2 linked regions of the Homo sapiens genome follow. The protein of the gene in region 2 interacts with the protein of the main gene of each other region in a biochemical or structural test. Each region holds a gene or a part of one and is shown on either strand. Other genes may lie near its edges.

The links. The genes of interacting proteins can lie anywhere in the genome.
Region 1: of the proteins of ETV1 (region 2) and MAPK14, one has a biochemical effect on the other in vitro, tested with the Homo sapiens proteins (one study listed by BioGRID).

Annotation. Positions count from the first base shown.
Region 1 is NC_000006.12:36,030,772-36,037,807, reverse strand, and holds part of MAPK14 (mitogen-activated protein kinase 14), read right to left. Parts: intron 1-7,036. UniProt on the Homo sapiens protein: Serine/threonine kinase which acts as an essential component of the MAP kinase signal transduction pathway.
Region 2 is NC_000007.14:13,986,642-13,994,229, forward strand, and holds the start of ETV1 (ETS translocation variant 1), read right to left. Parts: upstream 3,026-7,588; 5' UTR 2,922-3,025; intron 2,824-2,921; 5' UTR 2,627-2,823; intron 2,499-2,626; 5' UTR 2,412-2,498; coding exon 2,367-2,411; intron 2,243-2,366; exon of another isoform or gene 2,203-2,242; coding exon of another isoform or gene 2,173-2,202; exon of another isoform or gene 2,126-2,172; coding exon of another isoform or gene 2,039-2,125; intron 1,533-2,038; coding exon 1,445-1,532; intron 45-1,444; coding exon 1-44. UniProt on the Homo sapiens protein: Transcriptional activator that binds to DNA sequences containing the consensus pentanucleotide 5'-CGGA[AT]-3'. Required for olfactory dopaminergic neuron differentiation; may directly activate expression of tyrosine hydroxylase (TH).

The DNA.
Region 1 (7,036 bases), on a different chromosome or scaffold from region 2:
CCCCATTTTTCCCAGGATGCTGGTTTCTAACTACTGGGCTCAAGGAAACCTACCTTGGCCTCCCAAAGTGCAGGAATTACAGGTGTGAGCCACTCACTGCACCTGGCCAGAATATAGCTTCTTAAGGCAGAAATTTTTGTCTCTTTTGTTCACATTTCATCTCCAGCACTTACGGCAAACCATACATGGTAGGCACTCAAGGTATAATGAGTCCTGTCCTCAAGGAGATTACCATGAACCTATGCTCCTTCCCCTTTCTCTCTACAATCTTGTACCCTGTAACACTCTTTTGTAACTTTGTAACACAAAGTTCAGAAAATGGCACTAAAATATATCCATTTGCCCAAGGCCAAAACTTAGAAATCCTAGACTCCTCACTCTCCTATACTTCTTTCCCCCAACATTCAGCCTTGGAGCCAAGCATGCCCAAAACCCAGTATCCATTTGTCAAGTACAGAATTTACAAACCACCACTTCTTCTTCCCTATAATAAATTATTAAAAGACTTGAACACTGCACGGGAAAGCTGGTTAATTTTGTAAATCCTTAACACATACATACAGGTGTACCTCAAAGATATCATGAGTTCAGTTCCAGACAACCACAACACAGTGAATATCACAAAAAAATGAGTGACATAAATTTTTTGGTTTCCCAGTGCATATAAAAGTTATATTTACATGATACTGTAGTCTATTAAGTATGCACTAGCAGTATGTCAAAAAAATATATATATGCACATACCTTAATTTAAAAATATTTTATTAGCCGGGCACAGTGGCTCATACCTATTACTCTCAGCACTTTGGGAGGCCGAGGCAGGAGGATCGCTTGAGGTCAAGAGTTTGAGACCAGCCTAGCCAACATGGTGAAACCCCATCTCTATTAAAAATACAAAAATTGGCTGGGCATGGTGGTGCACACCTGTAATCCCAGCTACTCGGGAGGCTAAGGTGGGAGAATTGCTTGAACCTGGGAGGTGGAGGGTGCAGTGAGCCAAGATCGTGCCACTGCACTCCAGGCTGGGCAACAGAGCGAGACTCCATCTAGAAAAAATAAATAAATAAATAAATATTTTTTTGCTAAAAAATGCTAAGGGTCACCTGAGCCTTCAGCAAGTTATTATCTTCTTGCTGGTGGAGGGTCTTGTCTCAGTGTTGATGGCTGCTGCCTACTCAGGGTGATGGCTGCTGACTACTCAGGGTGATAACTGCTGAAGACTGGAATGACTATGGCAATTTCTAAAAATAAGACAACGGTGAATTGCTGCATTGATTTATTCTTCCTTTCGTGATAGATTTCTCTGTAGCCTGCAATGGTGTTTGATAGCATTTTACCCACAGTAGAACTACTTTCAAAATGGGAGTCAATCCTCTCAAACCTTGCTGCTGCTTTATCAACTAAGTTTATGTAATATTCTAAACCCTTTGTTGTCATTTCAACAATGTTCATAAGCATCTTCCCCAACAGCAGATTCCACCTCAAGAAACTACTTTATTTATTCATTCCTGAGAAGCAATTTCTCATCTATTGATTTTTTTTTTTTTTTTTTGAGATGTACTCTTGCTCTATCGCCCAGGCTGGAGTGCAGTGGCACGATCTCGGTTGCCACTTGGTTGCAGTGGCTCACTGCAACCTCCACTTCCCAGGTTCAAGCAATTCTCCTGCCTCAGCCTCCCAAGCAGCTGGGACTATAGGTGTACACCACAACACCAAAAAATATAAAAAACAAATTTTTGTATTTTTTCTAGAGGCAGAGTTTCGCCATGTTGGCCAGGCTGGTCTCAAACTCCTGACCTCAGATGATCTGCCTGCCTCAGCCTCCCAAAGTGCTGAAATTACAGGTGTTAGCCACCGCCCCCAGCCACCTTGCACTATAAGTTATGCTATGGAGACAGGTTCTTTCCTTAAACCTATGAACCACCCTCTGCTAGCTTCAAACTTATCTTTTGCAGCTTTCTCACCTGTCTCAAACTTCATACAATTAAAGAGAGTTAGGGCTTTGCTCTAGATTAGGCTTTGACTTAAGGGCATGTTGTGGTTGGTCTGATCTTTTATCCAGACCACTAAAACTTTCTCCAGCTCAGCAACAAGGCTGTGTTGCTTTCTAATCATTCATTTGTTTACTGGAATATAATTTTTAATTTCCTTCAAAAACTTTTCATTTGCATTCACAAATTGGCTGTTTGGTACAAGAAGCCTAGCTTTCAGCTTATCTCAGTTTTCGACATGCCTTCCTCACTATGCTTAATCATTTCTAGCTTTTGATTTAAAGTAAGAGACATGCAAACATTCCTTTCACTTGAACATTCAGAAACCACTGTAGTGTTATTAATTGGCCTAATTTCAGTATTATTGTGTCTCAGGGAATAAGGACGCCTTAGGAGATGGAGAGAGGGAACAGCTGGTTGGCAGAGCAGTCAGAACACACACAATGTTTATCAATTAAGTCTGCCTATGGGCATGGTTCCAGACACCTCAAAACAATTACAACAGCAACATCAAAGATCAGTGATCTCAGATCCCCATAATATTTAATAATAATGAGAAAGTTTGAAATATTGCGAGAACTGCCGGGCACAGTGGCTCACACCTGTAATCCCAGCAGAACTGCCGGGCATGGTGGCTCACACCTGTAATCCCAGCACTTTGGGAGGCCAAGGCAGGCAGATCACAAGGTCAGGAGTTCGAGACCAGCCTGACCAACATGGTGAAACCCCATCTCTACTAAAAATACAAAAATTAGCCAGGTGTGGTGGCACATGCCTGTAGTCCCAGCTACTTGGGAGGCTGAGGCAGGAGAATCACTTGAAACCGGAAGGCGGAGGTTGCAGTGAGCCGAGATCGCACCATGGCACTCCAGTCTGGGCGACAGAGCAGAACTCCGTCTCAAAAAAAAAAAAAAAAAAAGAAAGAAAGAAATATTGCGAGAATTACCAAAATGTGACACAGAGACATGAAGTGAGCACATGCTTTTGGAAAAATGGTGCCAAAAGACTCGCTTACCACAGGGTTGTCACTAACCTTCAATTTGCAAAAAAAAAGCAATTATCTGTGAAGCATAATAAAACGAGTTGTGCCTGTGCTTAATTTATGGAAGCACTGTGAAAGACAAACTACTCTGAATACTGAAAGTTTCTTTTACAAAAACATTTCCAAGTTTAAAGAAGTTTTTGGTTATTTTCCTGACGAAACAGCTGCATGACTTCCATAGCAGCCATGAGAAGACATCCCTAAGTTCCAAGTCAGGGGAGCCCACTTTATAATGAGGCTTTTCTGAGCACTGCAGTAATTATACCTCTTAGATAAGAACAAATCAGTTTTACCCCAAATTTTACTGCAAAAAGCAAAAATCTAATGTATTTTCAAAGGGCTGGAGAGGCAGTTATTTCTATTTATATCCTATACTTATGTAACACAAACATGTACAGACAGTCCCAACTTTACATAAATGTACACTGAAGAATTTCAATCCAATAGGATTCATAAATTCAGGAATTAACTATTTGCACTGCCTAATAATTCCTTCAGAAAAAATTTTAATCTGGGCAATGAGTGCATTTTTGATTTATCAGTTCTGAGGAAGAGACATGACTCTAATGGGTTAAATGGGTTAAGTCATTACCCCTCACATAAACTGGGCAATGACACTGGTGGAACTGCTTTCCTACACTCAAGCTCTATTCCGAGTGACTCAGCAACCCCTTTTTCACAAGAGGAGGTTAACTGCATAAGAGAAGGTGCCACCGCGCAACCTCAGCAGCCCACATCTATCAGAAAGGAGACTACTAAAAGTAGCATTGACAAGTATGCCATTCCTTTAATGAATGAGTCCAGCTCCCCATCTATAAAATGGAGTTAATAAATATGAGCCTCCATGGAGCTAGTGAGAACTGATTGATAATGCTTTGAATGAAAACACTTTATAAACTGCAAAAATCCCTAAAAATGTCAGTTAATTCTAAAGTGAGGGTGATCTACCCCAGTGAATTCTTCCATCTTTGAATTCTAGGCCCCAGGGGCTCAGCAATATCTGCACTCTTGCCCATGAAAGGCAAAGTCAACACATCATCTCTGAGACTGGGCTAGAAAGAAATCAAAAGCAGAGTACTCCTCAGTATCAAGAAATCAAACTGGCAGAACTGAAAACCTGGAGATCCAGGATAAGCTTATTTTAAAGAAGAACCAGTGGAGGCTGGGTGTGGTGGCTCATTCCTGTAATCCCAGCACTTTGGGAGGCCAAGGTGGGCAGATCACAAGGTCAGGAGTTCGAGACTGGCCTGACCAACATGGTAAAACCCCGTCTCTACTAAAAATACAAAAATCAGCCAGGCATGGTGGCACGCACTTGTAATCTCAGCTATTCAGGAGGCTGAGGCAGGAGAATTGCTTGAACTCGGGAGGCAGAGGCTGCCGTGAGCCGAGATTGCACCACTGCGCCCCAGCCTGGGCAACACAGCAAGACTCCGTCTCAAAAAAAAAAAAAAGTGGAAAAATGGGATTTGATAATAAAATGACTTTATAGCCAGCTTCGAATGAACTCTTTCTTAAAACAATCTTTATACATCAATAATACAAATGCTTGCCGTTAATTATGTTTAAAGACTTCTTATTGACTGGCACTGGTAACATACAGGCAACTACCTTACTTTTGGTTACAAAGAAAAGAATGGAAAGCTCAGCATGGACCTACTATCACTACTAGAAAAGTAAAGGGCACACCCTTCTCACTGGTCAGGAGTCAAGAAAGTCACCCTTGTATACTTAATAATCATGCACTTTTATTTCTTTGTGCCCTGGCTCATTCTAAAAAAAAAAAAAAATAGATTTAAAATGGTGAATGGCCATTAATAGTTAAAAAAAGTTAGCTTCACTTATTTCTTTTATACTAGAATAATCTTGTTCCACAAAGCACTTAGGAAGTTGTATTTGATTTCTTAGCAAGTTTTGCTATCCTTTTACCAAAGGTTTTGTTATATACTTTTTATGCTGATGATAAAGTGCACAGCACAATGCTAGAACATAGCAAGCAATCCACAAAATGTAGTTATTAAACCCACTAGGCTGTAAGTTCCAGGAGAGAATGGATTGTCTTGTTTCTGTCTTGTTTAGCACTCTATTTCCAGAACCTAGCTATCTGGCCCATGGTAGGTATTCAATAAACACTGTTGAATAAACAGTTGAATAAGATCTAAGAGTAATTCTCAACTGTCACCTCCTATTTCATGGTTACCAGTGTCCCACCTCCTCTAATCAACAGCAAGGGCCTGGAAGAACCCTACCCCAGAGGAAAGGCACTTAAGTTCCTGTTTGTATTTCCTTAAACTCACCACAAAGATTCTCCCCTTCTGTCCCAAAACCCCAAAATCAATGCTTTGCAACAATGTATTCTTAAACAATTTTGCTTCATTTCCCCTCACAGACAATGCATAAAGTTCCTTAAAACTGCAAGACCTAGTCTAGTTCCCTTTACCCTTTAACGGAAAGGCATATTTGTAAAACTCTATTTTGATTCATAGTTGGTTATCACACAGGCTTCTACTTGTTTTTTTACTATACTTAGTATAAATTAAAATAATATAGGCTTAAAATAATTTGTAAATGTTACAAAGTATACCACACTTTAGAGCAATAAAATTCGGAAACTGACAAATATTTCAATGAATGAATTTTATTCATTGAAATATTCTATTCATTTATTTTCATTCTTGAAAATAAAATTCAGGGGCTGGGTGTGGTGGCTCATCCCTATAATCCCAGCACTTCGGGAGGCCAAGGTGGGGGAACTGCTTGAGGCCAGGAGTTTGAGACCAACCTGGGCAACACAGTAAGACCCTATCTCTACAAAATAAATAAATAAATAAAATAAAATTCGGAGATTTTTTTGGAAGTAGACTTCAGGTCCAGTTCAAGAAGTCACACAAAAAATTATGTGTTGTTACTTTATAGTTATAACTCCTATCTGACCTAAAACAGTAGTATCACCAACCTGATTGCCTTATCTTTCTTATCAGACTTGAGTCCAAATTCCCTAAATTATTTGGATTCAAATGAACTGTTATTCCCTAAAATCAAATCTGCTCTCAAAAAAATGAAGATGGATGGCCAGAGACGGTGGCTCACCCCTGTAATCTCAGCACTTTGGGAGGCCAAGGCAAGTGGATCACCTGAGGTCAGGAGTTAGAGATCAGCCTGGCCAACATGGTGAAACCCTGTCTGTATTAAAAATACAAAAATCATCCGGGCATGGTGTTGCGCACTTGTATCCCAGCTACTTGGGAGCCTAAGGCAGGAGAATCGCTTGAACCCATGAGGTGGAGGTTATAGTGAGCAGAGATGGTGCCACTGCACTCCAACTTGGACAACAGAATGAGACTCTGTCTCAAAATAAAAAAGAAGAAGAATATCACAGGCTCCAAAGTGGATTCTAAAAGAAGTTCCAAAAAATGTTTTCTGCCACACCTAAAAAGGTACTCATTGAAAGAACAACTTCAGGCTGGGCACCGTGGCTGAGGCCTATAATCCCAGCACTTTGGGAGGCCAAGGAGAGCAGATCACTTGAGGTCAGGAGTCTGAGACCAGCCTGGCCAACATGGAGAACCCCGTCTCTACTAAAAATACAAAAATTAGCTGGGTATGGTGGCGGGCACCTGTAGTCCCAGCTACTAGGGAGGCTGAGGCAGGAGAATCGCTTGAACCCAGGAGGTGGAAGTTGCAGTGAGCCAAGATGGCACCACTGCACTCAAGCCTGGGCGACAGAGTGAGACTTCGTCTCAAAGAAAAGAAAAACTTCAAATAACTACGCTGAATCTCTGAATAAGATAACACTTAATTGTAAATCTAAATTCTGGTATTTTCATTCCAACATTAGTTATAATTTGTTTATTGTCAATTGTCATACAATTTCAGTTTCAGTTGTATTTTCTTTCACCAATATGCTGTAGGTTACATCTTAAATCCCTTTAGTAGAAAGACTACTAAACAAACAAGCAAATAAAAAAAACTGCCTCTCTGGAAAGACACAAGACACTTAACA
Region 2 (7,588 bases):
TGCAAGCCATGTTTCCTGTAATTGACTTAGATCTTGAAAGAGTTCTAAAAAACAAGTCAAAGACATAAACATAAGATTTGCAAATCTTTAATCTTCATTAAATGGAAATATTTGTCATGAAATTGGTATTAAATATAAATTTAATTTCAAGAGACGCAGTCAACATAAAAATAAAAAAAAGAGGCATAACTTAAATATCTCAATAATACTGCCTACTTTTCATGCCTATTAAGCAACTCTTTAAGAAATTATTTTAGTCAACTAAAGAATAAAGTCAATCATCTTTTCTTCTTTTTAACAAACAGCTTAATAAATAAGCTCAGGGATACCAGAATTCACAAAAAGGCTGAGGTGAATATGTGTCTGTTCACTGAAATCTTCCTTAAATATATTTAACTCTTGCTAAAATAGTAGTAGGGGGAAGATTAGAAAGACTGAAAAGCATTTTATTTATATCTTCTGAATCTTACATAAAATATATAATGGTACATGGTACAACTGTCAAAGTATTATGTTTTCAACTTCAATACCTCGAAACTAAAAGAAACCACTTCAAATACAAGTTTTTAGAGGAAAATTTCTACATTAATAGGTTTATAAAAGTCAGAAAGATAATTCTTTGGCACCAGGTTCTCATCAAGTTCTAAACTATATGGTCATGTTAGGGAGGGAGAGAGGGAGGTATTTAAATGGTATGAAGATTTGAGGAAGTTTCAGAATTCAGTATATCTAATTAAAATTGCCAACTAAACTTTGATAATTAAATCTAAGTATATTAAGTTTATTATGAATGTCCTCATATGGCTAAAATAATTTGTAACATACTGACATCCTAGCAACAGTTCATAAAAAGAATCTGCAAACTAATTTCCCAAATAGTATTATAATTATTAAGGAGGCCTTAAGTATGATTCAGTGAACACATTATGGTCGATAAACAAGGTATTATGACCTCACAATTTAGTCATCAAAATCACCCTTGAAAATTCTGTTAATAGTAGATGGTTTTAGTGTAAAGGAGGTGGGAAACCAAACAATCACTAATACTGTTTAACTTGTAATAAAGGAGAAAGAAAAAAGTAAGCAGTGTACATAGCTGCTGAATTTGTCCCACTGTATTGGATATTTTTAAATTGTTATCTTAGTGAATGGGGTGAGTTATATGCCCCATGGACAAAGGTATTTAAACACAAAACAATGATTAAAAGAAGGTTGTCATTGAGAAGTTTTTATTTCCTTCTTTCATTACTTTGTGATAGGACCATAAAATAGTCTCCCATGCAAACTGCCGCATTATGTAAATCGTTCCAAGTTAAAGTCTTAGTTAGATTCAGTAATTTCAAAGTTTATTATTTTTAAGATAAGACTGAAGTGCTCCTTTTCTTTTAGCAGGGTGGAGAGTGTAGGTAAAAAAATGGGGATTCAGCCCAAAATCAAACCTCACCTTCTGAATCATGAGCCAGATCTCTGTTAATGAATTTTCTTTTCCTGACATTTGTTGGTTTCTCGTTACAATTTCTCCCACGCTGACTCTACAAAGGGAAAGATAAAATCCTTTAAAAGAATGTAAACCTCAGATCACACACACGCACACGCGCGCGCACACACACACACACAGACATGCATACATAAGTCTAATGGATCTTCTCTGAATAGAAAAATAGAAGTCCATAGTATCAACTCTAATATTCATTTTCTCACTTATTTGACAGTGAAAGCTTATGTTAAGCAGGCAGGGAGAGTTGCTTCCCAGTGCCGATCTTAGCACATTACTATTTATCAATCATATATTCATGGTATCTCAGCATCAAAACAACCTGAAGCATTTACACTTAAAGTTGTTTTTAGGCTGGTTCAATGCTAGATTAAAACAGTGGGTTTTATTCTCTCTTGGACAGCCCCTCCTCCCCACCCCACCCCCACAAAAAAAAAAAGCAAAAAGAGTAGAGAAATGAAAAAAAAAAAAAAGAGAAAATGAGAAAAAAAAAAGAAACAAAAACACCCCATATAAACAAAAAGTGTCAGCATTTGTCTCAACTTCATTCTTTTCAATGTGGCAGACAAACCCAGCCAAAAACTTTGAGTGCAGCAGCTGCTGCTGCCCTCCATCTCCTCTTCCACTCATGTTGGGCACTTTAATCAGAAAAAGGGGTCTTAAAAACAAAACTATGCCTTATCCAAATCACTGAAAGGTAAGCTCATTTTGAAGACTGGGCTTCTAGAAGCAGAGTCGCCCTACAGTGGCAACAAAGCAGATAAGTATCTGCAATCCCAACCCCCGTGCCCCCTCCCTTCTCATTTTCTCCCTCTCCCCACCCCCGACGGAGTCAAGTTTATAAACAGCAACTTTCAAACTGATCACTCACATTGGTGACCATGTAAGGCACTTGCTGGTCATAAAATCCATCCATGCTGCTGCTCTTCGCAAATCTCAGCTCAGTATTTTATATTTTGAGCATTTAGCTGGAGATTTCCTCAGGATCTGGACTTCTATCAACCTAGAGGGGAACAAGATGGCTTTTAGGCTTAAAAAAAAATCATGAATGAAGCTCTTGAATTTGCATAGCTAATTACCCTCCGACAGTCCCATTCACAAAAATAACCCTCCCTACACCGCCTCCTTCACCTGGATCCAAAGAGAGCCAACAGAGTTCACAATTTACATATTTTCGGTAGTAGCAAAAATCCGAACAAGAGGCGATGTATTTATTTACACTCTCGATGTTTCCCTGCGCGGTCGGTGTACCCCGGGCAGCTCTGATTCGCAAACGTGTGCAAAACTAGCAATGGCGATCAACGAGACTTGCTTTGCACCTAACGGGACTAAAGAGACGGAGACACCTCTTTCATCAGGATAGTTTTTGCGACCCACAACCATGCAATTATCTGGAGAGACATAAAAAGTTGTTGGAAAGACCCACCTGAAGGCCACGCTAGGCGAAAGGCTGCAAAAACTTCCCTCCAAATTTAATAAAAACATTAATTATAGCCCAGCACTTCCCCCTTGGAAGCCGAAAGCGCCTCTGACAGAGCTCAATTCGGTGGTTTTTCCTCTACTTCTCCTCCAGGGGCCTCCAATCCAAACTGATGGATCGCTGCCTCCCATTGGCTCCGCGTCTCTTTCACAAGATCAGATTTCGGGCTGTCAATCAGGCGGCTTGCTGCCCCTTCCCGCGGGTCTCCCTCGCCCCTCTGCCCTAGGGGGTGCTCGGCCGGTAGGCGCTGGGTCCTCAGCCTGGAAGCGCCACGGAGAGACTCGATTTCCTCTGTAACCCGCTGCTTATTGTTAAGGCGCCTGGGGATACTGAAACCGTGTGTTTCGAGTCGCCAGTTCCCATTATTGGGGTGTTAGGTCCACTATTGGGCTGGTTTCCTTAAAGTACTGTTGTGCGGTTCTGGTATACCCTTAGAGCCGCGATCCACAAAGCCCGTACCGCCTTATTCAGCTGCCCTCCCCTCAGGATCTCCAACCTCTCTACTCTTGCCCTGACTAGGAGCTCACCTCGCTCTCTATCCTCATTCCCACTCAGCTTTTGGCCCAATTTATTTTCCCGTTTTTCAAAACCCACCATCACCATTATGGTTTATCGAAACATTTTTTAAACAGTCATCCTCAACTAAAATTAGATCCTATCGTTCGTGGGACAGAAACATAAAGAATCTATAAGGAAGGCACCTAGGAGATGCAGAATTGCTGATTAGCAGAGGTTGTGATGGGAGGACAACAGAGCAAGCTAGGTGAAAAAGTATAAGTCAAAATGGTCCCTACGTGTGCACTGGGAAAAGGTACTTCCAGTCCACTGTGGCTGTGGGGAGGAGGAGGGAGTGCTTGGGGTTGCTCGTATATCCTAGAACCCGCACGTTTCCTGAGCTTTTGTTATGTATACACGGAGGCGGAGGGTGTCACTTACTGTACTTGACGCTTTCACTTCCTCTCCAGCTTTTAAACAGCCAGAGCCCAGGGTTGGGGGCGAGCGGTGAGATGGCTCGGGTTTCAAGGACAATAACTAGGACGTTAAGCAGTGAGGGCTGCATCTCTGAAGCCACTTGCCCTGATCCTCCTATGGGACTCAGAACAGTAAAGCGTCACTTTAAGGAGCCAGTGTCCAACAGCGGACGGGAGGCCGCGGGGATAGGACCAGGGACTCAATGCTGTTGAAATTCATTTGTGACCAGAACTAGTGACCAAAAGACGTTTCCGGCAGCTGTTCCGCCCGTTAGGAAACGTGCTGCAGTTCTCAATTTCTATTTGAAAGTTTCCTTCCTTAAATAGAACGTTATGGAGACACATTAAAATGGAGTGTAAGAGCGCACAGCACTCAACCCCGGACCTGGGCAGGAGAAAGATCTACTTAAAAAAGAAGCAAACAAACAAACAATCAACACTTATTACTGGGAAAACAACCAATAACTATGGACAGCAAAGACAGACCCCGCGCATTCCCGGAAACTACTAAATCGGAGTTCACAACGCGCGCACCTATAAGCATTTTGAGCGGGAACTGCATTTTAACCCCGGCCAAGGAGAGATTCCAGGAAGCGCCTGGGCCCCGAGGCTGAACAGTGAAGCTCATGGGTACTATCTGAGGGTGCAACCAAGCAGGGGGTCAATAACAAGGGTCCTCCACCACCCTGCACTCCTGGAATAACCCAGCGCCTGTAATCTGAGCAACAGTTTCCAAAGACCTTCTCTGCAGCCCGAGCCTGACGGGTATCCAGGGTAACCGCGAGGGGGCGGAGCTTCGGGTTAGGTCCCGGCGAGGTTCTTCCCGCAGCCAATAACGAGCCGTAAATCCCCAGCCCATTGTTGTTTATTGCTGACCCCTCAGCGCTCCGCTAGGAGATTGGCCGCTTTAGGGAAGGGGGCGGAGTCCCGCCCGCCCCAACAGCCACCTTTCGTCTCCATTCACAAAATTCCGGCCCTTCTTGGTCACGTGGTTGGGGGCGTGGAGGGGTAGAGGAAATGACACAACAAAGGCCCAAGTATCCCAAACCACAAAACTTTTTTCAGCTCGCTGCCTCCTCTTTGTCCTGTCCCTGAAACAGATACTAGATGAGGAAAAAGAGGTTGGGGTCTGGGAGTAATAACAAGAGAGAAAAAAATTAAGACCGAAATTAAAGGAAGGCTCACGTGGGGATAATTCCGGCGTGCACTGCTTAGACAGCTTTTGCACTAGAGGAAAGAAAGAATTGAGAGTGGGGAGAAAGTCTTAAGGACTGGGAACTTTTGCTTGCTGCTTCAAGTCATTGCTTTTAAAGGTGCAAACTGTTCGACTGTAGATGGATTTCAGTTTTTTCACTTAACATTCTGTAATTTTCATTTCTACCTTTTTTTGTATCCCACAGTGTCTTGTTAGTTTTTTAAAGCTTTTATGTATTATTAGTATTATATATTTTTAGGAATATTGATGGTTTTCGCTGGCTGATAGCTTTAGTTTCCATTTCCAAAGACTTATCACTCCTTCCCAGGCCCCCATAAGCTCTGCGCCCCTTCTCCCTCCCTTTAGTGGACTGGCACTCTCAGGCGCTGCGCTGTTAAGCCTCAGATTTTACTACGTATTGCGGTGGCTTCATATTTTCCCTTTTGAGTTCTTTAAACGAACTCATATCTTTTAACTCTTTGATCTTCATAGTAACTGAAAATGATGTTCTCGTGTGAATAAGCAGCTAGTCTCGCTACAGCTCGGTTTTGTTGAAACAGCCTAAAATTTTGAGATAAATGTGTCCCTCTTGACTGTGAACGATTGAACCACCCTCTTTTCTTTCTCCCACTTTCTCTTCTGTCCTTTCTCTGCATTGATACTTACTGAAACACTATCTCTTCTGTCCTTTCTATGCCTTGATACTCAGACACTAGCTTCTAGTTTGGCAGTTGTTTATCTTCTCTGCTTGGCACTGGGAAAAACCAATAGACCCACTTGCTGAAGACAGTGGAAGGGCTGAAAATTTGTTTTTCAGAAAATGTAAGATCTTGGAAAATATCTGCAAAGGCAGCTGTTCTGTCTACAAGACAGGAACATAAAAAGCTGGACAAAGTTTCCACTACTTTTTGAGAATGTCTTTAAAACATCAGTTTAGTAAATGCCAGCCCTTTTGAACGGAAAATTTCATTTTGGCAGGATTTCAGGCATAGAATGGCAGAGCAGAGGCCAAGAGGCTTTGACATTTATTTGCTTGTATTTTGAAATCCCATTTGGATTTTGAAATAAGAGTTCTTGAGAGAAAGCTACCCCCCTCCAAAAAAAAGTCCATTTTTGAGTTTGGAAAGTTTTTAGGTTGCATGTAAAACTATTTAAATTTTTATATTTCCCTTGCTGTTATTTAATAAAGTAAAATAATATTCATTAGTGACTTCTCTACAGTTAACTTACTATGGCATTATGAAGAAATTGCACGTTGTTAAAGAAAGTGAATTTCTAAAAGCAGTTACAGAAAGGCAACAAGCTAAAATGGCGCTGCTTGTTTTAAATGGTTGCTATAATTAAAATCAAATGAAGTTTGCTCAAAATTGAGTAGAGTATTAAGTAAAACAGTAACTTTTAAAATTTGTTGTATTAAAACAGTATGTAAGGCAAATTGTTAAAGATCTAGTTTGCACAGTTACATCAAATAGATAAGAAAAAGATATAAAATTAAACAGCAAAATTGGCCAAGAAAATGAACAAGTGAAAATAATTCCAAAGGAGAACATAGAGTCCTCACAGGAGGGTGAAAGATAATCAGTGGCTTCAGGAACACTGTATGTGAGGAGTAGCAGAAATTTGAGAGGAGGGTGGAGCCTGGGAAGAAGGTAAGGGTATCAAGGAAACTGATACTATGTAGCTGTATACTCTCTCACTCTCAATACTGCCATTTTCAGCTGGTGACTATCTGTAAACTCCCTCAAGTAGAGGAATTGCAAACAACTTATAAATGTGGAAAAAAAAACTTTTAACTGCACCCCAAATCAGTACATTATACTGTACACTTAAAAAATAAAGAATTTTTTTATTTTTATTATTTATTTATTTATTTATTTATTTATTTATTTATTTATTTTGAGACAGAGTCTTGCTCTGTCACCCAGGCTGAAGTGCAGTGGCGCGATCTCGGCTCACTGCAACCTCTACCTCCTGGGTTCAAGTGATTCTCCTGCCTCAGCCTCCCAAGTAGCTGGGAGTACAGGTGCCCGCCACCATGCCCAGCTGATTTTTGTATTTTTAGTAGAGATGGGGTTTCACCATATTGGTCAGGCTGGTCTCAAATCCTGACCTTGTGATCCGCCCACCTTGGCCTCCCAAAGTGCTAGGATTACAGGCATGAGCCACCGCGCCCTGCCTTAAAGAATGTTTTAACTCATCAATTTGGAAGGAAGTTTCTAATATACTTAGAGTTGGATCCTAGGATAAGGGCACTCATGTATATTGCTGGTTGGAATGTGACTTTTTGAAACCTTTTGAAGGTAAGCTTACAATGTCTACTAGACTTTAAAATGAACATCTATTAGACCCTAAAATTATATCCAATAATCCTCATTTGGGAAATCTATACTACAAAAATAAAAGCAATGGTGCATGAAGACATTTATTGAAATATTAGGTACCAAGGA